Linked DNA regions of Homo sapiens. The protein of the gene in region 1 purifies or fractionates together with the protein of each later gene. This does not show direct contact. Each region holds a gene or a part of one and is shown in the gene's direction. Other genes may lie near its edges.

Evidence for each region.
Region 2: the proteins of TMPO (region 1) and ATXN2L purify together in Homo sapiens (affinity purification with mass spectrometry, with the first as the bait; one large-scale study listed by BioGRID). This does not show direct contact.
Region 3: the proteins of TMPO (region 1) and RRBP1 purify together in Homo sapiens (affinity purification with mass spectrometry; 2 studies listed by BioGRID and IntAct, with this or other methods). This does not show direct contact.
Region 4: the proteins of TMPO (region 1) and YBX3 purify together in Homo sapiens (affinity purification with mass spectrometry, with the first as the bait; one large-scale study listed by BioGRID). This does not show direct contact.
Region 5: the proteins of TMPO (region 1) and COLGALT1 purify together in Homo sapiens (affinity purification with mass spectrometry, with the first as the bait; one large-scale study listed by BioGRID). This does not show direct contact.
Region 6: the proteins of TMPO (region 1) and LIG3 purify together in Homo sapiens (affinity purification with mass spectrometry; one large-scale study listed by BioGRID and IntAct). This does not show direct contact.
Region 7: the proteins of TMPO (region 1) and MKI67 fractionate together in Homo sapiens (co-fractionation; one large-scale study listed by BioGRID). This does not show direct contact.

The regions. Positions count from the first base shown.
Region 1 is NC_000012.12:98,522,090-98,525,589, forward strand, and holds part of TMPO (thymopoietin), read left to right. Parts: intron 1-3,500. UniProt on the Homo sapiens protein: May help direct the assembly of the nuclear lamina and thereby help maintain the structural organization of the nuclear envelope. Possible receptor for attachment of lamin filaments to the inner nuclear membrane.
Region 2 is NC_000016.10:28,835,366-28,837,732, forward strand, and holds the end of ATXN2L (ataxin-2-like protein), read left to right. Parts: coding exon 1-34; intron 35-180; coding exon of another isoform or gene 181-183; coding exon 184-393; intron 394-567; coding exon 568-900; 3' UTR 901-960; coding exon of another isoform or gene 961-1,115; 3' UTR 1,116-1,362; coding exon of another isoform or gene 1,363-1,435; 3' UTR 1,436-1,867; downstream 1,868-2,367. UniProt on the Homo sapiens protein: Involved in the regulation of stress granule and P-body formation.
Region 3 is NC_000020.11:17,658,243-17,661,742, reverse strand, and holds part of RRBP1 (ribosome-binding protein 1), read left to right. Parts: intron 1-1,214; 5' UTR 1,215-1,235; coding exon 1,236-3,147; intron 3,148-3,500. UniProt on the Homo sapiens protein: Acts as a ribosome receptor and mediates interaction between the ribosome and the endoplasmic reticulum membrane.
Region 4 is NC_000012.12:10,716,824-10,720,323, reverse strand, and holds part of YBX3 (Y-box-binding protein 3), read left to right. Parts: intron 1-1,180; coding exon 1,181-1,244; intron 1,245-2,202; coding exon 2,203-2,236; intron 2,237-3,500. UniProt on the Homo sapiens protein: Binds to the GM-CSF promoter. Seems to act as a repressor. Also binds to full-length mRNA and to short RNA sequences containing the consensus site 5'-UCCAUCA-3'. May have a role in translation repression.
Region 5 is NC_000019.10:17,565,649-17,569,148, forward strand, and holds part of COLGALT1 (procollagen galactosyltransferase 1 precursor), read left to right. Parts: intron 1-1,757; coding exon 1,758-1,892; intron 1,893-2,860; coding exon 2,861-3,065; intron 3,066-3,500. UniProt on the Homo sapiens protein: Beta-galactosyltransferase that transfers beta-galactose to hydroxylysine residues of type I collagen. By acting on collagen glycosylation, facilitates the formation of collagen triple helix. Also involved in the biosynthesis of collagen type IV.
Region 6 is NC_000017.11:34,987,012-34,990,511, forward strand, and holds part of LIG3 (DNA ligase 3 isoform alpha precursor), read left to right. Parts: intron 1-2,454; coding exon 2,455-2,652; intron 2,653-3,500. UniProt on the Homo sapiens protein: Isoform 3 functions as a heterodimer with DNA-repair protein XRCC1 in the nucleus and can correct defective DNA strand-break repair and sister chromatid exchange following treatment with ionizing radiation and alkylating agents.
Region 7 is NC_000010.11:128,096,159-128,099,291, reverse strand, and holds the end of MKI67 (proliferation marker protein Ki-67), read left to right. Parts: intron 1-36; coding exon 37-102; 3' UTR 103-2,633; downstream 2,634-3,133. UniProt on the Homo sapiens protein: Protein that associates with the surface of mitotic chromosomes and acts both as a chromosome repellent during early mitosis and chromosome attractant during late mitosis.

The DNA.
Region 1 (3,500 bases):
GTGGTATGATCATAGCTCACTGCAGCCTCAAACTCCTGGGCTCAAGCCTCTGGAATAGCTGGGACTACAGGTGTGTGCCACCATGCCTAGCTGATTTTTAAAATTTTTATAGAGATAGTCTCACTATGTTGACCAGGCTGGTCTTGAATTCCTGGCCTCAAGGGATCCTCCTGCTTAGGCCTCCCAAAGCGTTGGGATTGTAGGTGTGAGCTGCTGCTCCTGGCCAAATTATGAATTCTCAATAGGAAATATTTGAAGACCTGGAAAAGAACATAAAAGCATGCTACCAATAGGAAATGTTAATTAAATCACAAATTTACCACCACTGTATAATAAGGTGTTAAGTTTACAGACTTGTGAATAATAGAGTTATAGATTCAAATTCCAGGTCTGCCACTTATTCATATGACACTGAACAGTGTCTTAATCTAAGATCCTCTATTTTCACCTGAAATAGAGGAATAACCTAATAGCTACTTAATCAGATTGAGGAGTACATGCCATTGCATATGTGAAGTGTCTAGTGCTTAGTAATTAATAGCCATTAAATGATTTCTGAATTTTTGTCTTTAATGTCAGGGCAATATAGTGCAATGTTACTAAAATATAATTTTGGGAAACGAATAAGGTAGATAAGTGAAAGTGACATGTATATCATAGCATGCAGATTTCCTGAGTTAGTGAAGAGCATGCTTGAACCTCAGTTTTCTGAGTTGTCAGATGGGGATATTAGCATTTTATTCCATAGATTTTTAGGACTCTGTAAGTTAATGCAAAGACACTTGGAACACAACTCAGTACGTAATACATAATAAGTGCCCACTAGAATATATTGTTATGGTTCAACATCTTTATACTAGAGGTAGAGATTAAAGGAATTAGAGAAGCTCATCGGTGATATCATAGAGCTGTTGGGTTTTGAAGTTGAAAAATACGTTAGAGATCATCGGGTAGCATAGTAGGTACTATTTTTGAGTGAAACTCTTAAGTGATCTACTTAAAGGAACAAAGCTTTCTGGAGGCAGAATTTAATGCAACTGATGCTTCCTTTTTCCTGACTGAAACTGCTAATCATGTACAGCACACTGTCTCCTAATTTTTTATCCTTATTAAATCTGAGATTTATAAAATGACATCACTTTTCTGGAACTTTTTTCCTGACAGATTAAAAACCACATGTTTGACTGTGTGCAGTGGCTCACACCTGTAATCCCAGCACTTTGGGAGGCCGAGGCAGGTGGATCACCTGAGGTCAGGAATTCGAGACCAGCCTGGCCAACATGGTGAAATCCTGTCTCTTCTAAAAATACAAAAATTAGTTAGTCGGGTATGGTGTTGCGCGCTTGTAATTTCAGCTGCTTGGGAGGCTGAGGCAGGAGAATCTCTTGAACCTGGGAGATGGAGGGCATGCCACTGCACTCTAGCCTGGGCAACAGAGTGAGACTCCATCTCAAAAAAAAAAAAATCACGTTTTTGGTTTTAATTTATCTGACTTACCTTATGTAGATTTGTTGGTCACTTATTTAAGATATCTTTGTTCAGCTGATGTTTTTCATTATGTTTGAAGGAAATATAATTGATTTTCTTTCTTTCTTTTTTTTCTTTAGGCGAAGTCTGGCCTTATCACCCAGGCTGGAGTGCAGTGGCGCAATCTTGGCTCGCTGCAATCTCCGCCTCCCCAATTCAAGTGATTCTCCAGCCTCAGCCTGCCGAGTAGCTAGGACTATAGGCGTGTGCCATCACACCTGGCTAATTTTTGTATTTTTAGTAGAGATGGGGTTTCACCGTGTTGGCCAGGCTGGTCTCAAACTCCTGACCTCAACGGGAGATCCTCCCTCCTCGGCCTCCCAAAGTGCTAGAATTACAGACATGAGCCACTGCCGAGAATTGGTTTTTACTTAGATTTGATAGGCCTGTTATTTCTAATAAGAAATGGATTTTCAAAAATAAATTACTTTTTCCTTCCCCAGATTTGACAAAACATTTATCAGGGGGCTATTCCTGTATCAGTCTTTTTAGAAATGTTTAGATGCTTGGAATAAGAATATGAGGATGATAGTGCGTCTGCTTTCTGTTGCTTGCCTCAATGCTGCATCCAGATCACCTGGGCTACACAATTACAAACAGATTATCTGGCCCAAGGTGAAGAATCAGAAATGGGTAAGACCTTTCCAAATAGAGGTAACAAGAGTTAAGATTTTGGGCTGGGTGCTGTGGCTCACGCCTGTAATCCCAGCACTTTGGAAGGCTGAGGTGGGCAAATCACGAGCTCAGGAGTTTGAGACTAGCCTGGCCAAAATGGTGAAACCCTGTCTCTACTGAAAGTACAAAAATTAGCTGGGCGTGGTGGCATGCACCTGTAGTCCCAGATACTCAGGAGGCTGAGGCAGGAGAGTTGCTTGAACCTGGGAGGCAGAAGGTTGCAGCAAGGCAAGATGGCGCTACTGCACTCCAGCCTGGGCGAGAGAGTTAAGAGACTCCACCTTGAAAAAGAAAAAAAAAAAAGAGTTAAGATTTTTTTTGAGACAGAGTCTTGCTCTATCGCCCAGGCTGGAGGGCAGTGGCATGATGTCGACTCACTGCAACCTCCGCCTCCCAGATTCAAGCAATTCTCCTGCCTCAGCTTCCCAGGTAGCTGGGATTACAGGCATGTGCCACCACACCCGGCTAATTTTTGCATTTTTAAAAGAGACGGGGTTTCACCGTGTTGGCCATGCTGGTCTCGAACTCCTGACTTCAAGTGATCCACCCACCTTGGTCTCCCAAAGTGCTGGGATTACAGGCATGAGCCACTGCACCTGGCCCAAAGAGATTTCTTGAAAACCTCTCAGGCGGGTTTGAAAAGTTGGAATTTCCTGGATGTTTTATTGATAGTAAATTTGAACATTCTCGTGGTAGTGGGGATTATGTACAAATAATTTGAACCTGATTGATTGTTTTTCCATGTTTTATTTTTATTTTAAGCATTATTTAGTTTTTCTGTACTACCTGACTGCACTTTTTGGAAAATTTGAGTAAGTCAGTAACATAGGATTAAGTTTGTTTGATTAAATCTTTTCTTGAAAGAAATAAGTCTTAGAACTCTTAGACCCTAGGCAACTATTTGGATATTATGGTGTGGGTTGCTTCCAGATATGAGCCTGACAGTTCTAGGTCAGTGCAATGTATGTGAATTAAAGCCTGCTAAAAGTACTCTCACTGTAACTCTCCACAGCCGTCTATTTAAGATTTCTCGTAAGTTGACATAATTGTTCTTATGAGCAGCTATTTTTTTGGTGAAGGTTTTTTGGCTTCTGATTATAGAATGATTAGCCATTAGCAGCTTTTTAAAAAGAATTTCTCATATCTTGCTTTATTTGAAGTATTTCAGGCCAGGTTCCATGGCTCACGCCCGTAATCCTAGGACTTTGGGAGGCTCAGGCGGGCATAACATTTGGGGTCAGGAGTTCAAGACCAGCCTGGCCAACATGCTGAAACCCCGTCTCTACTAAAAATACAAA
Region 2 (2,367 bases), on another chromosome or scaffold:
GCAGTCCCAGCATGCGGCCCCCAGTCCTGTCCAGGTGCCTGCCATGGGGGGTGCTGAGTGGTCCTGGTGCAGGAATGGGTGGCCAGAAGAAGGGATAGAGCTAGGGGTCATTTCTGAGTGGCGAGGACTGGGGGCCAGCGAGTTGCTGGCCTGTGTGGCACTCAACCTTCCCCTCCCCAGCAGCATCAGGCGGGGCAGGCCCCACACTTGGGCAGTGGACAGCCACAGCAGAATCTGTACCACCCAGGGGCCCTGACAGGCACGCCGCCCTCTCTGCCACCGGGACCTTCTGCCCAGTCCCCTCAGAGCAGCTTCCCCCAGCCAGCCGCTGTGTATGCCATCCACCACCAGCAGCTGCCCCACGGCTTCACCAACATGGCCCATGTTACCCAGGTAAGAGCCCAGCTGTCCCACTTCTGGGTCTGTTTGCCAGGGCCCGTCTGCCATGGGGACCATCCCATTGCCAAGTCCCTGGTGCCACCCTTGCCATAGTGCTCCCTAACTCTGGCTCTCAGAGTCTGTTTCAGGATTCTGTGGTCTTCCCGGCTACTTTTTTGTTTTCCACAGGCCCATGTCCAAACTGGAATCACAGCAGCCCCGCCCCCTCACCCTGGGGCTCCCCACCCGCCCCAGGTGATGCTGCTGCACCCACCCCAGAGTCATGGGGGGCCCCCCCAAGGCGCGGTGCCCCAGAGTGGGGTGCCTGCACTCTCAGCTTCCACACCCTCACCCTACCCCTACATCGGACACCCCCAAGGTGAGCAGCCTGGCCAGGCGCCTGGATTTCCAGGAGGAGCCGATGACAGGATTCGTGAGTTCTCATTAGCTGGGGGAATTTGGCATGGAAGAGCTGAGGGGCTGCAGGTGGGGCAGGATGCACGGGTTCTGGGTGGGGAGTGAGGGGTCTTGGAGGCAGGGCTGTCCCACAGGGCGCCCGCCGACCTGCACCTGTCTGTGAAGTATGTAGGGTGGGCAGAAGCCACAGTCGCCGCCGCCAGGGGCTTGCTCCTGGCTCTGTCCTTTGCTTCCCTCCGTCCTCGCTCAGTTGTGATCCAGCAGCCCCCCTCCCCACTGCCTCCCCAGCTCTCAGTGACCCCGACTGTCTCCTGACTTAGCCGAGGTAAGGTCAGTGCAGCAGACAGGGCCAGACTGGGGTGTGGGGGGCTGAGCTGGGCACATGAGTGAGGGCTCTGGCTTACTGGGAAACAGCGATTGACCTGTGCTTCTGACAGCCCCCGAGACACCTTGAGGAGGCCGCTCCTTCCCAGACACACCCCCACGCCCCCACTGGACGGCATTGGAGGAAGGGACAGCTGCTTGGGTTCTAATGCTCCTGCTCTCTTCTCTTTCCCCTCCAACCAGTTCAATCTCATCCCTCCCAGCAGCTCCCCTTCCACCCCCCGGGGAACTGAAGATTGTCCTGGCCGCGACCTGAGACCTCCATGAGTGGAGGGAAGAGTGATCTATGTCTCTTCCCCCAGCAGCTCGGACCACTCCCAGCCCCCCATCCCCCCGTTCCCCAGGGGAGCTGGGGAATTCCTGCCAAGCACCTTGAATGGGAGGGGCCTCACAGAGGGCAGGGCCAGGGTCCAGCAGGGGTGGGGGGTTCCTGCTCTGCCCCTGCCCGTCCCCACCCAGTCTTGCCCTCCCATCCTCTCATCTATTCCCCCGCTGGAGACGGAAGATCTTTTATTTTCTATTATTTATAACTTCAGACTTGGGCCCCCTGTTCTTTCTTTCCCATTAACTTGAGTGACCTGTGTGAGAGACAGACAGATGCCCCACGAGGATGGCTGGACAAGGACTTTTACTTTTTATTACATAAAAATATTAAAAAATAAATAAAAAAAATAAAATTTTAAACTAACTTAACCTGCCTGGAGTTTCCTCCTTGGAGACTAGAGTGGGGTGACAGCTGTCAGTCTTTTGTGGCATTGATAGGTGCTGCATTGTGACCTGTTCCTTCACCTCCATGTAAAAATCGTGTCCAGTGGCCAGCCATGGTGGCTCACGCCTGTAATCCCAGCACTTTGGGAGGCTGAGGTGGGCAGATCACCAGGTCAAGAGATGGAGACCATCCTGGCCAACTTGGTGAAACCCCATCTGTACTAAAAATACAAAAATTAGCCAGATGTGGTGGGACATGCCTGTAATTCCAGCTACTTGGGAGGCTGAGGCAGGAGAATCACTTGAACTCGGGTGAAACCCTGTCTCTACTAAAAATACAAAAATTAGCCTGGCGTGGTGGGACATGCCTGTAATCCCAGCTACCTGGGAGGCTGAGGCAGGAGAATCACTTAAACCCAGGAAGCGGAGGTTGCAGTGAGCTGAGATCACTCCATTGCACACCAATGGTGGCCAGTTTTT
Region 3 (3,500 bases), on another chromosome or scaffold:
GCTGGGGGAGGCCTGTCCACTTCCCCTCCTCTCCTCTTCCACCTCCTTTTACCTCCCCTTAACCACCCCTTCTTACCCTTGTGTTCTCTTTGCTCATTCCATCGATCTTCTTTAGAGAGACTCGGGACTGGCTTGAATGTATCCAAATAAATACACCTCCTGGAGTTCCTCAGTGAAGTCGAACTTAGCCCGGGCTGTGGCAGGAAGGTGTATGAACCTGGATGCCTCTGACCCATTGGACTTTGGTCCATAGGCAGTGAGAATGGTGTTGTTCATTCTTATGGTTTGGGGAGTGTTGTCTGACAGAGGGGCCTGCTGACACTGTCTCCTCACCCTCTGTGCAGCTTCTGGATGTGAAATTCCAAACCTGGCATCTTCTGGGCCTCCCAAGACTGATTCTTCCTGTTTCCCAACATGCAAATTGCAGGCTCCATAACTCCTCAGGAGCTATTGCTGGCAAAAGGCTATTTTCCCTCACTGAATTTTTGAACACGTTTCAGGATTGTAATGCAGAAGTTTTTATCTCTGATCCTGGGTAGCAGCATTTATTGGCACTGGGGAAGAGGGAAACAACAGAGTGGAGATGGCACACTGTGGGCCTGCTGGCTAAAATGCTTGTGGCTGAAAGCCTGCAGATGTGTTTGGTTTGGTTCGGTTCACATATTTTTTAAATCAGTCAATTTCACGTTGAGAGAAAAATTTTTTAAAAGTGTCTGGCCTAACATGAAAAATCAAAACATCTTCCAACTCAGCAATCACATTTCTAGGGCAATCGGCCATGACAGAGTGTCACTGTCTAATTTTAGGTGGGGGCGGGTGTTTTTACTACAGTCTCCACCACTCCCCATGGTCTCACACCTGGCCTGTGTTTGTGCTCCTGTGCATCTTTGACCTTGGGTGGGGAATATCTTGCATCAGGGTCATGGCTGCTGAGGCTCCTGGGCGTGTGTGCTCCAGAGATAGGCCTCCACTCTGCTCTGACTCTGCTGTTGCTTTGTATGGGGACTGCTCATGCCTTGGGTACGAATCGCTCACTCCTAAAGAGGAGCAGGTGAGAATGTGGGACATCAGAGAGTGCCTGGGTTTGTTTCTTCTCTGAATTTATTAGCCTGAAGAAAGAATTAGTGAAACCTGAAGTTTGGTGGTAGGGTGGGGATAGAAACTGTTGAAGGCCTTGATTTCTATAAATAGTAACCTCCATGTATGTTTGACAGGTGAAAGGAAAGCAAGCCAGGATGGATATTTACGACACTCAAACCTTGGGGGTTGTGGTCTTTGGAGGATTCATGGTTGTTTCTGCCATTGGCATCTTCCTGGTGTCGACTTTCTCCATGAAGGAAACGTCATATGAAGAAGCCCTAGCCAACCAGCGCAAGGAGATGGCGAAAACTCACCACCAGAAAGTCGAGAAGAAAAAGAAGGAGAAAACAGTGGAGAAGAAAGGAAAGACCAAGAAAAAGGAAGAGAAACCTAATGGGAAGATACCTGATCATGATCCAGCCCCCAATGTGACTGTCCTCCTTCGAGAACCAGTGCGGGCTCCTGCTGTGGCTGTGGCTCCAACCCCAGTGCAGCCCCCCATTATCGTTGCTCCTGTCGCCACAGTTCCAGCCATGCCCCAGGAGAAGCTGGCCTCCTCCCCCAAGGACAAAAAGAAGAAGGAGAAAAAAGTGGCAAAAGTGGAACCAGCTGTCAGCTCTGTAGTGAATTCCATCCAGGTTCTCACTTCGAAGGCTGCCATCTTGGAAACTGCTCCCAAGGAGGTGCCGATGGTGGTGGTGCCCCCAGTGGGTGCCAAGGGCAACACACCAGCCACTGGCACTACTCAGGGCAAAAAGGCGGAGGGGACTCAGAATCAAAGCAAAAAGGCTGAAGGAGCCCCAAACCAGGGCAGAAAGGCAGAGGGAACCCCAAACCAGGGCAAAAAGACAGAGGGAACCCCAAACCAAGGGAAAAAGGCAGAGGGAACCCCAAACCAAGGCAAAAAGGCAGAAGGAACCCCAAACCAAGGCAAAAAGGCGGAGGGGGCCCAGAACCAGGGTAAAAAGGTAGATACAACCCCAAACCAGGGGAAAAAGGTGGAGGGGGCCCCAACCCAGGGCAGAAAGGCCGAGGGGGCTCAGAACCAGGCCAAAAAGGTAGAAGGGGCCCAGAACCAGGGCAAAAAGGCAGAGGGGGCCCAGAATCAGGGCAAAAAGGGAGAGGGGGCCCAGAACCAGGGCAAGAAGGCCGAGGGGGCCCAGAATCAGGGCAAGAAGGCCGAGGGGGCCCAGAATCAGGGCAAGAAGGCCGAGGGGGCCCAGAATCAGGGCAAGAAGGCCGAGGGGGCCCAGAATCAGGGCAAGAAGGCTGAGGGGGCTCAGAACCAGGGCAAAAAGGCCGAGGGGGCTCAGAACCAGGGCAAAAAAGTAGAAGGGGCCCAGAACCAGGGCAAGAAGGCTGAGGGTGCCCAGAACCAGGGCAAAAAGGCCGAGGGGGCCCAGAATCAGGGCAAAAAGGCCGAGGGGGCCCAGAACCAGGGCAAGAAGGCCGAGGGGGCCCAGAACCAGGGCAAGAAGGCCGAGGGGGCCCAGAACCAGGGCAAGAAGGCCGAGGGGGCCCAGAACCAGGGCAAGAAGGCCGAGGGTGCTCAGAACCAGGGCAAAAAAGTAGAAGGGGCCCAGAACCAGGGCAAGAAGGCTGAGGGGGCCCAGAACCAGGGCAAGAAGGCCGAGGGGGCTCAGAACCAGGGCAAAAAGGCCGAGGGAGCCCAGAACCAGGGCCAAAAAGGAGAGGGAGCCCAGAATCAGGGTAAAAAGACAGAAGGGGCTCAGGGCAAAAAGGCAGAAAGGAGTCCCAACCAAGGCAAAAAAGGAGAGGGAGCTCCCATCCAGGGCAAAAAGGCAGATTCGGTTGCTAATCAGGGCACAAAGGTAGAGGGTATTACAAACCAGGGGAAAAAAGCAGAAGGGTCCCCCAGTGAAGGCAAAAAGGCAGAAGGGTCCCCCAACCAAGGCAAAAAGGCAGACGCAGCTGCCAATCAGGGTAAAAAGACAGAGTCAGCTTCTGTCCAGGGCAGAAATACAGATGTGGCCCAGAGCCCAGAGGCACCAAAGCAAGAGGCTCCTGCCAAGAAGAAGTCTGGTTCAAAGAAAAAAGGTGAGCCTGGTAAGTAACTGATTTCTTTATGAACTTAGAAGGAAAGGCTGTCTTTAAATGACTTATGGATTCTCTCGGGGAGTGCCACCTGTATCAGTCAGCTATTGTCATAATAAGGCTGCGTAACAAACATTCAAAAAAAAATTCAGTGGCCTTCAACAGCAGTCATTTATTGTTGCTCATGCTTCTGGAGGTTGGCAGATGTGAGCTTTCTCGGTTGGTGGCTCTGCCTCAATCTGGTTTTAACTGGGTTGGTGACTCTTTGCTACAGGTTGAGCTCAGGTCAGTTCCATGTGTGGTCCTTCTGGCGCCCTCCAGGGCAGAGGCCCTTCATAGTTACAACAGAGGCACAAAAGGGCATT
Region 4 (3,500 bases), about 88 Mb from region 1:
AGTGTATCAGTCTAGCAAACTTCAGAACTACCCCTGCCTACAACAGAGCAAGTCTTAATTACTATTTTAGTTTTGAATTTAAAAGTGAAGCCTTATTGTTTATCCTTGGAAATTATAAACTTTGTATCTTATGAAAAGACAGTATGGATTGATGTTAATAATTACTTTCATTCTCTACTGAGGCTTTTTTCTTTATTTTTTCTTTAAGGTAATCTATTATCAGGTTTCCTGTTTCATTGAGTCTTTATAATTGCTTTTTGCACTTCCTGAATTGAGACAGGGGCATTTCCTAGAAGTACTGAATTTGTCATTCATAATTGATTCCAAAGATCATATTTGAAATAGTTGAGATAAATATAAACCTACAAAATACAAGTTACATGAAGTTTTATTTTGTTTAGATTCCTTCTCTCAATTCTGCTAAAATCAGGCATTGTAGAGAAGTGGTCCTGCTCATGAGGTAGAGACAACCATTATGGTAAAGAGGGGGATTTTATGGAAAAATGCTTAAGTTTGATTCGCAAAACTGTAGAGAGCAAGGTAAACAAAGAAACAAGCCCAAATTCATCATGTGATTTGAAAAGACCTGTTATATCACGTCTCAGAGTGGTAAGTACAGAACTGGATTGAGACAGCAGCAGTTCTATAATTATTCTTGACTCCTCTGATGAGCTCCCACTTGGCGACTGGACAAGTTGCTTTACGTCTTTGTAGATTGCCTGTTAACAAGGAGCCACCTTGTTTCTCATTAAAGTTTGCCTAATATTTCCAAGTATGAAAGTGATGTGTTAAGGTCTTTCACTCTTTTATTGTAGCTCCTATTTTGAACTTATAAAATTTGTCTAGGTTAAAACTTGGAACATTCATCTTGAACATTCTTTTTTTCCTTCAGTGTTTCTCAATTTTAATGATTACAGAATTGTATAGACTTATAACCACTCCTTATCTTGCGAGTTTCCTGAAAAGTTGAATAAGGAAGAAAGGTTTAGTCTTCTGAAAAGTATTTCCTTATGAGATCTTGGCTTGCTCCATTTTCTTTTTCTAAAGTATTTTGGAATTAAGCTTTTAATGGTTTCTTTAGGTATGTTTAGGCTTTGTCTAATGTTATCAAGATCTTAGTGATATGAGCTATATCTCTCTGTAGGTCAGATACTAATTTATCTGCTTAATCCTATTTTAGCCACCAAAGTCCTTGGCACTGTCAAATGGTTCAACGTCAGAAATGGATATGGATTTATAAATCGGTATGTGTGTGTGTATATTTGCATGTTTTAAGTTTATACTTACATTGTGGCACCAGGAGTTATAAATCCCTTAGCCTTCATTAATGGCTTATATAAATTTTTTAGGTTTCTAAGCACTGTAAATATTCTCATTTCTAAGCTACTGGTTGTTAAATATTACTTAAAATACATTTCCAGGACACTAATAAATAACTTATTTCATAAAATCTAGTCATTAAGGAAGAAAAGGAGGGGGAGATAAAATCAGAAATGGGAAGGGCCTTAGGATAAATGAGACCATATCCATAATTTCACAGATGGAGAAACGGAGTCTTACACTGGTTAAGCAGCTTTCCTAAGGTCACCCAACTAGTGAGTCATTGAGCTGGATCTTTAACTCACTTCTGGTCCAGTCCTATGTAGAAACTGTAAACTGTGGTAACTTTTAACCGTACAGGAATGAGAACATAACTACAAGATGCTGGGAGTATTATGAGGTTTTCACATGATATCGGCATTTTCTTTGCTTTCCCACCCCTTCTTAAAGTCCTCCAATTTCTTGTCTCCTTTGGTGGGGTGGGGGTGGGGGGCTGTTTTAAGTTTCAGTGTAAGGAGAGCCTAGTTCACAGCTGTGCCCTGTCCTTTTAACTGTCTTGCTTTGCTTTTGCTGGGAGGAAAATCTGAGGCTCTGATTACACACCATGTGATTCAGAAAGAGACAGAGGAACGGGATGTTTCTGTATGTTGAGTCTGTGAGCTTGGATCTAAGCACTGTGGCAATGTGGAGGAGGAAGGTGGGTGGCCTGTGGAGTTAGAAATGTTTAACAAGGATTTTAGGTGTCTGAATTGAGTGTAGAAAATAAGTGAAAATATATGTTGTGTTTTGAGGACTTGGGAGTTAAATTCATAACACATAGGTTCTTTTAAGTTTTTCCACATACGTACTACCTTTAATTGTGAGCTTTTTGTCTTTCAACAGAAATGACACCAAAGAAGATGTATTTGTACATCAGGTAAGAGGGATTATAAATACTACATTTGCTATGTGAGGAGAGGGTGTGTAATCTTCTGTCAGCCCTTTCCCAAAAGTAAGTCCTATGGATTATTATTTTAATCTAAACTCTTTCTGTGATTTATTTTGCAACAGGAGTTCAGTTCCACATTTTAAGATTGGCAAATAAGTTCTTCTACCCCATCATATTAACTGTTTTCAAATAGTTTTATTTTTGCAGTTGTATAAAGTGATATTTGGTTAGACCACTTTCTAATTTTTAAAGCCTTTGAGTCCTTAGCAAAAAAAAGAAAAGTCTGTTTCCCTTTTAGCATCCTGTTCTCCTGATGTGGTTCCTCCTTAGTGTTTGCCTGGAGCCAATCTGGCTTCTGCCTGGGTAGGTATTGGTTAAAGCTCCTCTGTCAGAGCAGCTCTCAATTGAAGTAAATAGCGCAGAGAAGCAGATAGTAAGATGAGAAAACTTCCAGTTCCCAGGGTAGCCCTCACTCTTGTTAAATGAGGCATGTTAGGACGTGTCCAGGTCAAAAGCTGCAAATTCCCTTAGATTTGCAGGAAATAGAGGAAATGGGTAAGATATGGAGCTTCTCTGCTATAGGTGCCTCAGTTTTTCTTTGCTTTATTAGCCTAGGATGTTATTTATTCTGTTATTAATATGTCCTAGACTTCCTTTATAAAATAGGTTAAGAGAAGGAATACTATCCTTAGTGTTCTTTTTGTTTATTTAGTTTTCAGTGAATTGTCTGAAATATGCGTTCTCAGAGTATAACAATAAGGAAGATAGAGCAGCAGGTACTAATGCCAGCCCATTCTCTTGCAGTGCAGAAATCCAGAATACATCTGATTTTCTGTGTTTTTGTTTCCTTCTGTTTAGGTTTGTGTGTGTATTGGAGTGACCGTAGGAGTTGGAGATAGTGGTATCTAGCTGTGGTTTCTATTGTTTATATTTCTACTTGACTGGATATATCTCAGTTGCATTTAGATAATTTGAGTAGATTTATTTTGTTCAGATACAGTGACTTTTAGGGTCATAATAGTGTTGTTTATAATACTTGGAGGTTTGAGGTTAATAGACCTTTTAGGGTAAGAATTCTGAAGACTGCTAGAGTCAAGGTCCTCAGAAGTTGCTGTATTGGTGGCTGGCTTTATTAGCCTGTGAGTATATGACCCGATTCCAGCCCCCGTGAGGTTGTGTGGTGAGTCACCTCAATGTGTTGAGGCTTGCCCAGTTTAACAGGAAAAAGGGAGCGAGCCGGCAGGGAGGGGCT
Region 5 (3,500 bases), on another chromosome or scaffold:
GACTGAGCAAGACTCTGTCTCAAAAACAAACAAACAAACAAAGAAGCTGTTTGAGTCCTTTCTTTCAATTCTCTTGGTTCATACCTAGGAATGGAATTCCTGGATCATGTAGTAATTCTATGTTTAGCTTTTTGAGGAACTGCCACAGTGATCTGGCTGTTTGTTCTGCATTAATATTCAAAGGTCACAGATTCAAACATCCAGAGGGACCGGATGGGGTGTGTAACATGACCACAGGGCTTGTCCTAAGACCCAGCCACCTCCCCTCTGCAACTGAAGGTTGCCATGTGGAAATGGTATTCTCACGTTGCCAGGGGATACTGGAATTCTAGTTTTTGTTGTTGTTCATGGCAGTTAATCCAAATATTCTAAACGATACTGCCTGGGTAACAGAAAGCATCTCTGTGGACCAGCAGTAAAAGAAAAAAAATCCAGACCGGGCACAATGGCTCACACCTGTAATCCCAGCACTTTGGGAGGCCGAGGCAGGCGTATCACTTGAAATCAAGAGTTCGAGACCAGCCTGGCCAACCTGGTGAAACCCCATCTCTACCAAAAAATACAAAAATTAGCCTGACGTGGTGGCATGTGTCTGTAATCCCAGCTACTTGGGAGACTCAGGGAGAATTGCTTGAACATGGGAGGTGGAGGTTGCAGTGAGCCGAGATCACGCCGCTGCACTCCAGCCTATGCAACAGGAGACGCCATCTCAAAAAAACAAAAACAAAAACAAAAAACCTTCTGGTAGTTCTGTGATATATCATGACTTCTGTGTCTTTACATCCTGGTAGAGGGGGAACGTCCGGACCTAATCATTTTCTATGTGTGATTTTATATATATATATTTAATTTTAGTCTAGGTGCAGTGGCTCAGACCTGTAATCTCAGAACTATTGTAGGCCATGGGGAGGATCGCTTTGAGCCCAGGAGTTCAAAACCACCCTAGGCAATGTAGAGGGATCCTATCTCTACAAACATAAAAATAAAAATGAAAACATTATCTAGGCATGGTGACGTGTGCCTGTACGCTCAGCTACTTGAGAGGCTGAGATGAGAGGATCACTTGAGCCCAGAAACTCCAGGCTGCAGTGGGCTACGATTACACCATTGCACTTCAGCCTGAGTGACACAGCAAGATGCTATCCCTTTAAAAAATAAAAAATGAAGAAAAAGTAAAATAGTAGGCCAGGCATGGTGGCTCATGCCTGTAATCCCAGCACTTTGAGAGGCCGAGGTGGACGAATCACATGAGGTCAGGAGTTTAAAACCAGCCTGGCCAACATGATGGTACCCTGTCTCTATTAAAAATACAAAAAGTTACCCGGGTGTGATGGTGCACGGCTGTAGTCGCAGCTACTCGGGAGGCTGAGACAGGAGAATCGCTTGAACCCAGGAGGCGGAGGTTGCAGCGAGCTGAGACCATACCACTGCACTCCAGCCTGGGTGACAGAGCGAGACTCCGTCTCAAAAAAAAAAAGGTTTTGCTACCTTCTTGCTCATTGGTTGTTCATTTATTTCTCAGGGCTATCTCAGTGCCTAGAATTTTCTTTGAAGGAACTGAAGACCTTTGCTTTATTTCCATGATCCAGGGGATCCTGCAGGCCCCCAAAACGGGGTCCCTGCTTCATTTCATCCGGTGTAGGGGGTGCTTCCAGAGGTCTTTGCCAGACCCCCAGGGCACTGGCCTTTGCCCCAGCTGTTCTGAATGGTAGCCTGACCTGGCAGCCCATGCTGATGCTTTGTGGGGTGTTCTGCAGTTTGTAGATGCGGACAACCTGATCCTCAACCCTGACACACTGAGCCTGCTCATCGCTGAGAACAAGACGGTGGTCGCCCCCATGCTGGATTCCCGGGCTGCGTACTCCAACTTCTGGTGTGGAATGACTTCCCAGGTAGAGTGAGGGCCTGGGGACTGTGGGGACTGGGCTGAGCAGGGGGGTGCCGTGGCTAGAGTGTAACTTACTGTCACACAACCTCGTGGTGTGTGTTTTACAAAAATCATCATGGAAGCTGGGCACGGTGGCTCACACCTGTAACCCCAGCACTTTGGGAGACTGCGGCAGGCGGGTTGCCTGAGCTCAGGAGTTTGAGACCATCCTGGGCAACATGGTGAAACCCCATCTCTACTAAAAAAAAAAAAAATTACAGAAATTAGCCGGGTATGGTGGCACATGCCTGTCCTCCCAGCTGCTCGGGAGGCTGAAGCATGAGAATCACTTGAACCCAGGAGGCGGAAGTTGCAGTGAGCCGAGATCACGCCACTGCACTCCAGCCTGGGTGACGGAGTGAGACTTGGTCTCAAAAACAAAACAAAACAAAAACTCATTATGGTAATCTTTAAACAGCCCTCTGAGGCCAGACAGGAGGGAAGAATAGAGGGTCCTTGATTGTCCCCCACCATGCTATTCCAGAGGTGGAAACAGAAACACAGAGAGGAAGTGACTTGCCTAAAGTCACACAGCTAGCAAGTGGTGGTGTCAGGATGGGACTTCAGGCATGGCTTGATCCAGGTGTTTGGATAACTGTCTTTCTCCATCCTTTGGGTGGGTTCATTCTCAGACAGCTTGAGAGTGATCCCAGCAGCGTCTAGCCATCATCCATTCTGATTGGGCCATTGCTAGTCTCCTCTCCACACTACCTCTGAACTCATTACTGAAGCTGGGAAAATACAAGGCTCTTTCTTATTGGCCATGCCTGGCCACAGGTCCCACACTGGGCTTGAGTCTGGGGTCCTGGGACCACAGGCGCACACTGCTGTGCCTGGCTGTCTGTCTGGTCCTGTTTCATGCCGCCCACTATCACGGGTCTCCATCCTCACCTTTCAAGACCCCTACGCGGAACTCTCGCTCTCTCCCCACAGGGCTACTACAAGCGCACACCTGCCTACATCCCTATCCGCAAGCGAGACCGCCGGGGCTGCTTTGCAGTTCCCATGGTGCACTCGACCTTCCTGATCGACCTGCGGAAGGCGGCGTCCAGGAACCTGGCCTTCTACCCACCTCACCCTGACTACACCTGGTCCTTTGACGACATCATCGTCTTTGCCTTCTCCTGCAAGCAGGCAGGTACGTACATGAGGGGTCTGCCATCGCAGGGGCATCTGCCTGGTTCTTTGGGTTTTGCACTAAGCCAGTTCAGAACACACTGAAGATTCACAGAACCCAAACAATGCAGCGCAGGGCTGACTTCAGGTGCAGCTGTATCTAGGTGTTCAGATAATGTCTCCAGGACCCCGTTTCTCTCCAGCCCTGGCTTTGCTGGTTAGCTTCATTCCCTAGCTCTTTAAGATCTATTGGTTGGTCAGGCAGAGTGGCTTATGCCTGTAATCCCAACAATTTGGCAGGCTAAGGCGGGTGGATCATTTGAGGTCAGGAGTTTGAGACCAGCCTGGCCAACATGGTGAAACCCCATCTCTACTAAAAATACAAAAATTAGCCGGACGTGGTGGTGCTACTGGGGAGGCTGAGGCGGGAGGATCACTTGAATATGGGAGGCGGAAG
Region 6 (3,500 bases), on another chromosome or scaffold:
ATCCCATCTCCTAAAGGGGAGGACTGTGGCTATTATTTGTAGGACAGATGAACAATAAAGTGTTAAGTTTCCTGTTCTCTTCACTAAAATACACACATGCACACACGTGTATACACACATATATAGTTTCTTTTATATAAAATATAGAATTACTATTTCATAGACAGGGATTCAGGAAGACTTTGCTGGGGCATGTGGTATAGATAGGAGTTGAGAAGATCAGGATCATTTATTGGCCTTACGTAAACAGACAGCATTGGACTAGGGGCTTTTATATATGTAGTTTCATTTCTTCTTCAGTTAACCCTAGACAGTACTTTTATTTAGGAAGTACTTTTTATTAGGCCCTTTTTATGACTGAGAAAGTTGACGTTCAGGGTTATCATGGAGTTAGTATTTGTACTGAAGTCTGACTTCAGTACTTGTGCTCTTTTATACTACACTGTGTTGCTGCTTTTATTGTTTGGAGACATTCTTGTGATTGACTCAGCTGAAGAAAATAAATAAAGCCAAACCACTTGGCCTTATTTTAGAAGTCATTTGGAGATTGAAAGACATTTTATGTGATTGAAAGAAGCCTAGACCTGAGGTCAGAAGACTTGGGTTCTGGTCCTTGACAGCTCAGATCCCTGAGCACGTCCTTACCTCTCTTTAGCCTCTGTCTATGAAGCAGCAGTGGCCTCTCCTACCATAGTGCTATGCACAGGGTGCTATAGGAGCACAGGCAGCAATATATAGATTACTTTCCCCTCTGCTTCAGTGAGTTTGTGTATTTATTTGTTTAAGCTTCATCATATCTCCATGCCTCATCTACCCCATAGTGTTCTCATGAGGACTGTAAGAGATAACATTGCAAAAACGGTGCCTGGCTCTATAGGATTTTTATTATTTAAAAATTCTGGGCCGGGCGCGGTGGCTCACACTTGTAATCCCAGCACTTTGGGAGGCCGAGGCGGGCGGATCACGAGGTCAGGAGATCGAGACCATCCTGGCTAACACAGTGAAACCCTGTCTCTACTAAAAATAAAAAAATTAGCCGGGCGTGGTGGCAGGCACCTGTAGTCCCAGCTACTCAGGAGGCTGAGGCAGGAGAATGGCATGAACCCTGGGGGCAGAGCCTGCAGTGAGCCAAGATCGCGCCACTGCACTCCAGCCTGGGCGACAGCGAGACTCTGTCTCAAAAAAAAAAAAAAAAAAAAAAAAAATTCTGAGGTTGGTTGGTTTGTTGTTTGCTGGTAGGCCAAAGATAGAGAAGAGTCCAGGTGATGATAAGGACAGCATGTTTCTGGAAGGGCTCCGGTGTTGGGGATGGAATTTGGGAGGAGTTGAGAGAAAGAGAGTGTTTTAGTTCTTGCAACCTGGTTGAACATTGACACTTTGGAGATTTTGTCCCCTAAAATCATATTTAGATTCCGGATCAGAGATGAGGATGGATTTATAATTTACAAAGCCCAGACAAGAAACAGTGTACAACAGCAGTTAGCTTAGTAATGGCTCTGCCACAAGTTTGCCGAATAAAATTTGCTTTTTAAATGGTCACAAGGAGGTGAAAGGGAATCACCGATGAGTTGCACATAATTATTTTTAAGTGTCTGGAGGAAATCCCTGCCCCTTGACCACCTTTTGTAAAAATGTATTATTTTTTTTTTATAACTGCTCCTTGGGGAGCAGGGTTTTATTTTGACAATAAGAAAAGAAAAGTTGAAGCAGCGAGGGGTAGGGATGTTGAGTGTACTAATGGAATCTGACTTTCTTAGTAGTGTCTTTGTCCTGGCTCTTTCAACAAGGAAGTGGGCCAGGAAGTCATTTGCTCTTCTCAGACCTCAGTCCCCTTATCAGTAAGAGAACATTGAACTAGATAATCTTTAAGGCTTCTTCCAGCTCTGACAACCTGTGATAGCAGTAATTTCACATTGTCTAACACGTACTTGATTTCTTACCCCTTTCTCATGCCAGCTTTTCTGGGATCAGCTTTACAATTGCTCTGAGATCCTTCTGACCACTTTTTTTTTTTGAGGCAGGATCTTACTATGTTGCCCAGGCTGGTCTCGAACTCCTGGGCTCAAGCAGTCCTCCCGCGTTGGCCTCGCATAGTGTTAGGGTTACAGGCGTGAGCCACTGTGCCCAGCCAGTCCTGATCATTCTTGGCATGACTTTGGTCTTTATTCTTCAGTAAAGTGCTCACATAAAGAGATGCACATCAGTCTGGTCTTTTGCTTGGGTCTAAGGAGGCCATTGTTCCTTTAACATTATTTATTAGCTGTAAGATTTGGGAAAATTACTTGGCCTCCATTTCTTTATCTGTAAGATGGATATAATGACATCTACCCCAAAAGTCTATTCGGGGAGATTAAATAAAGCTAAATACCAGCAGAATATCTGTTAGTTTCCTTCCTTCCCTTTCTTTCTTCTCAGAAAGGCAGAATGAATTCATCTCTGTTGTTTCTCCAACAGCCAAGCCCAACAACTCTGGGGAAGCCCCCTCGAGCCCCACCCCTAAGAGAAGTCTGTCTTCAAGCAAATGTGACCCCAGGCATAAGGACTGTCTGCTACGGGAGTTTCGAAAGTTATGCGCCATGGTGGCCGATAATCCTAGCTACAACACGAAGACCCAGATCATCCAGGACTTCCTTCGGAAAGGCTCAGCAGGAGGTGTGGCATGAGCATCCTGAATAGGCCTTTCCTCCGGAGAGCTCAAGGCCATGGCTGCCTTCCTGGGCATGTGAGCTGTATAGTTGCCCGGGATCCCATGCTTGGTTTAATGCTGTACTGTAGTGCTATCTGGAAATTCTTAATAATTTTGAACAAGGGGCCTCGCATTTGCATTTTGCACTGTACTCCACAAATTATGTAGCCAGTTTTTCTCAGAGCACTTTGGCATCTGTCTTCCTCTCCCCTTATTCTGCTCCTAGGAGGCCAGAAGAACCCATCCTATTTGACTAGTTAGAAAATTTACTGTCCTACATATTTAATTAGGTTTTTGTGAACCATATACACAGTTTGGAATAGAATCTTCCAACTCTGTTTCTTTCATTTATCTAACAAATTGTCGATGAGCATCTCTGATGTCCTTGTCACTGGGCACGTGAAGTGAAACTAACCACTCTGTCCAACAAGAGTTCATCTGTAGGCTAAAGGTGAGGCAGACACAATCCACCAGCCTCTGAACTCCATGCTGTCTCCTACTATAGCGATATGCACAGGGTACTATAGGAGCATGGGCAGCGATATATAGATATCTTTTGGTCTCTGCTTCTTTGAGTTTGTTTGTTTGTTTATTTATTGAGACAAAAAATGTGGCTGTGTTGCCCAGGCTGGAGCGCATGGGTGCAATCTCAGCTCACTGCAACCTCCGCCTCCTGGGCTCAAGCAGTCCTTCTGCCTCAGCCTCCCAAGTAGCTGGGACTATAGGCATGTGCCGCTATGCCTGGCTAATTTTTGTATTTTTTGTAGAGACGGGGTTTTGCTGTTTTGCCCAGGTTGGTCTCAAACTCCTGGAT
Region 7 (3,133 bases), on another chromosome or scaffold:
TTACTTAAGAGTTCTATTTTTTTTCTTCCCACACAGGCTGAGGACAATGTGTGTGTCAAGAAAATAAGAACCAGAAGTCATAGGGACAGTGAAGATATTTGACAGAAAAATCGAACTGGGAAAAATATAATAAAGTTAGTTTTGTGATAAGTTCTAGTGCAGTTTTTGTCATAAATTACAAGTGAATTCTGTAAGTAAGGCTGTCAGTCTGCTTAAGGGAAGAAAACTTTGGATTTGCTGGGTCTGAATCGGCTTCATAAACTCCACTGGGAGCACTGCTGGGCTCCTGGACTGAGAATAGTTGAACACCGGGGGCTTTGTGAAGGAGTCTGGGCCAAGGTTTGCCCTCAGCTTTGCAGAATGAAGCCTTGAGGTCTGTCACCACCCACAGCCACCCTACAGCAGCCTTAACTGTGACACTTGCCACACTGTGTCGTCGTTTGTTTGCCTATGTCCTCCAGGGCACGGTGGCAGGAACAACTATCCTCGTCTGTCCCAACACTGAGCAGGCACTCGGTAAACACGAATGAATGGATGAGCGCACGGATGAATGGAGCTTACAAGATCTGTCTTTCCAATGGCCGGGGGCATTTGGTCCCCAAATTAAGGCTATTGGACATCTGCACAGGACAGTCCTATTTTTGATGTCCTTTCCTTTCTGAAAATAAAGTTTTGTGCTTTGGAGAATGACTCGTGAGCACATCTTTAGGGACCAAGAGTGACTTTCTGTAAGGAGTGACTCGTGGCTTGCCTTGGTCTCTTGGGAATACTTTTCTAACTAGGGTTGCTCTCACCTGAGACATTCTCCACCCGCGGAATCTCAGGGTCCCAGGCTGTGGGCCATCACGACCTCAAACTGGCTCCTAATCTCCAGCTTTCCTGTCATTGAAAGCTTCGGAAGTTTACTGGCTCTGCTCCCGCCTGTTTTCTTTCTGACTCTATCTGGCAGCCCGATGCCACCCAGTACAGGAAGTGACACCAGTACTCTGTAAAGCATCATCATCCTTGGAGAGACTGAGCACTCAGCACCTTCAGCCACGATTTCAGGATCGCTTCCTTGTGAGCCGCTGCCTCCGAAATCTCCTTTGAAGCCCAGACATCTTTCTCCAGCTTCAGACTTGTAGATATAACTCGTTCATCTTCATTTACTTTCCACTTTGCCCCCTGTCCTCTCTGTGTTCCCCAAATCAGAGAATAGCCCGCCATCCCCCAGGTCACCTGTCTGGATTCCTCCCCATTCACCCACCTTGCCAGGTGCAGGTGAGGATGGTGCACCAGACAGGGTAGCTGTCCCCCAAAATGTGCCCTGTGCGGGCAGTGCCCTGTCTCCACGTTTGTTTCCCCAGTGTCTGGCGGGGAGCCAGGTGACATCATAAATACTTGCTGAATGAATGCAGAAATCAGCGGTACTGACTTGTACTATATTGGCTGCCATGATAGGGTTCTCACAGCGTCATCCATGATCGTAAGGGAGAATGACATTCTGCTTGAGGGAGGGAATAGAAAGGGGCAGGGAGGGGACATCTGAGGGCTTCACAGGGCTGCAAAGGGTACAGGGATTGCACCAGGGCAGAACAGGGGAGGGTGTTCAAGGAAGAGTGGCTCTTAGCAGAGGCACTTTGGAAGGTGTGAGGCATAAATGCTTCCTTCTACGTAGGCCAACCTCAAAACTTTCAGTAGGAATGTTGCTATGATCAAGTTGTTCTAACACTTTAGACTTAGTAGTAATTATGAACCTCACATAGAAAAATTTCATCCAGCCATATGCCTGTGGAGTGGAATATTCTGTTTAGTAGAAAAATCCTTTAGAGTTCAGCTCTAACCAGAAATCTTGCTGAAGTATGTCAGCACCTTTTCTCACCCTGGTAAGTACAGTATTTCAAGAGCACGCTAAGGGTGGTTTTCATTTTACAGGGCTGTTGATGATGGGTTAAAAATGTTCATTTAAGGGCTACCCCCGTGTTTAATAGATGAACACCACTTCTACACAACCCTCCTTGGTACTGGGGGAGGGAGAGATCTGACAAATACTGCCCATTCCCCTAGGCTGACTGGATTTGAGAACAAATACCCACCCATTTCCACCATGGTATGGTAACTTCTCTGAGCTTCAGTTTCCAAGTGAATTTCCATGTAATAGGACATTCCCATTAAATACAAGCTGTTTTTACTTTTTCGCCTCCCAGGGCCTGTGGGATCTGGTCCCCCAGCCTCTCTTGGGCTTTCTTACACTAACTCTGTACCTACCATCTCCTGCCTCCCTTAGGCAGGCACCTCCAACCACCACACACTCCCTGCTGTTTTCCCTGCCTGGAACTTTCCCTCCTGCCCCACCAAGATCATTTCATCCAGTCCTGAGCTCAGCTTAAGGGAGGCTTCTTGCCTGTGGGTTCCCTCACCCCCATGCCTGTCCTCCAGGCTGGGGCAGGTTCTTAGTTTGCCTGGAATTGTTCTGTACCTCTTTGTAGCACGTAGTGTTGTGGAAACTAAGCCACTAATTGAGTTTCTGGCTCCCCTCCTGGGGTTGTAAGTTTTGTTCATTCATGAGGGCCGACTGCATTTCCTGGTTACTCTATCCCAGTGACCAGCCACAGGAGATGTCCAATAAAGTATGTGATGAAATGGTCTTAAAACCCATGGTATTTTTATTATAGGGAGAGTGGGGAAAGAAACTAAGTGTGGGTGGGGCAGACAGGCCAGTGTAAGAGAGACTGGTTCATTACGTTCCATTTTCATTTCTACAAGGACTTGGCTGGATGGTCATTTTCTCTCTTGGCCAATAAGTCATCGCAGCTGCTTTTAGTCCTGCAGGAATGGCCTGCTGTATCTCGAGAACTACCTGCAACCGCAGCTGTGCCTGCTTTGTTGCAACAGAGGTGCTGAGTTGAGGGATGGGGATTTGACCCAGGGCTGCCCCAAGTCAGCAGATGAAAATACATGCCCTGACTTTCCTCTGGCAACCCTGATTTGACATGGATCCCGGGAGTGAATTTGCTGGCAAGTTCCAGGGGCAGTAGCCTGCGGTAGGTCAGTTAGTCCTGAAGAAGAGGCCTTTCTGTCGGAGAGAAAAGTTTGCAGGTGGGTGCATCTACCATCTTGAGAGGCTGAGGAGGGAGGGAGAGCCGTGCTCGGT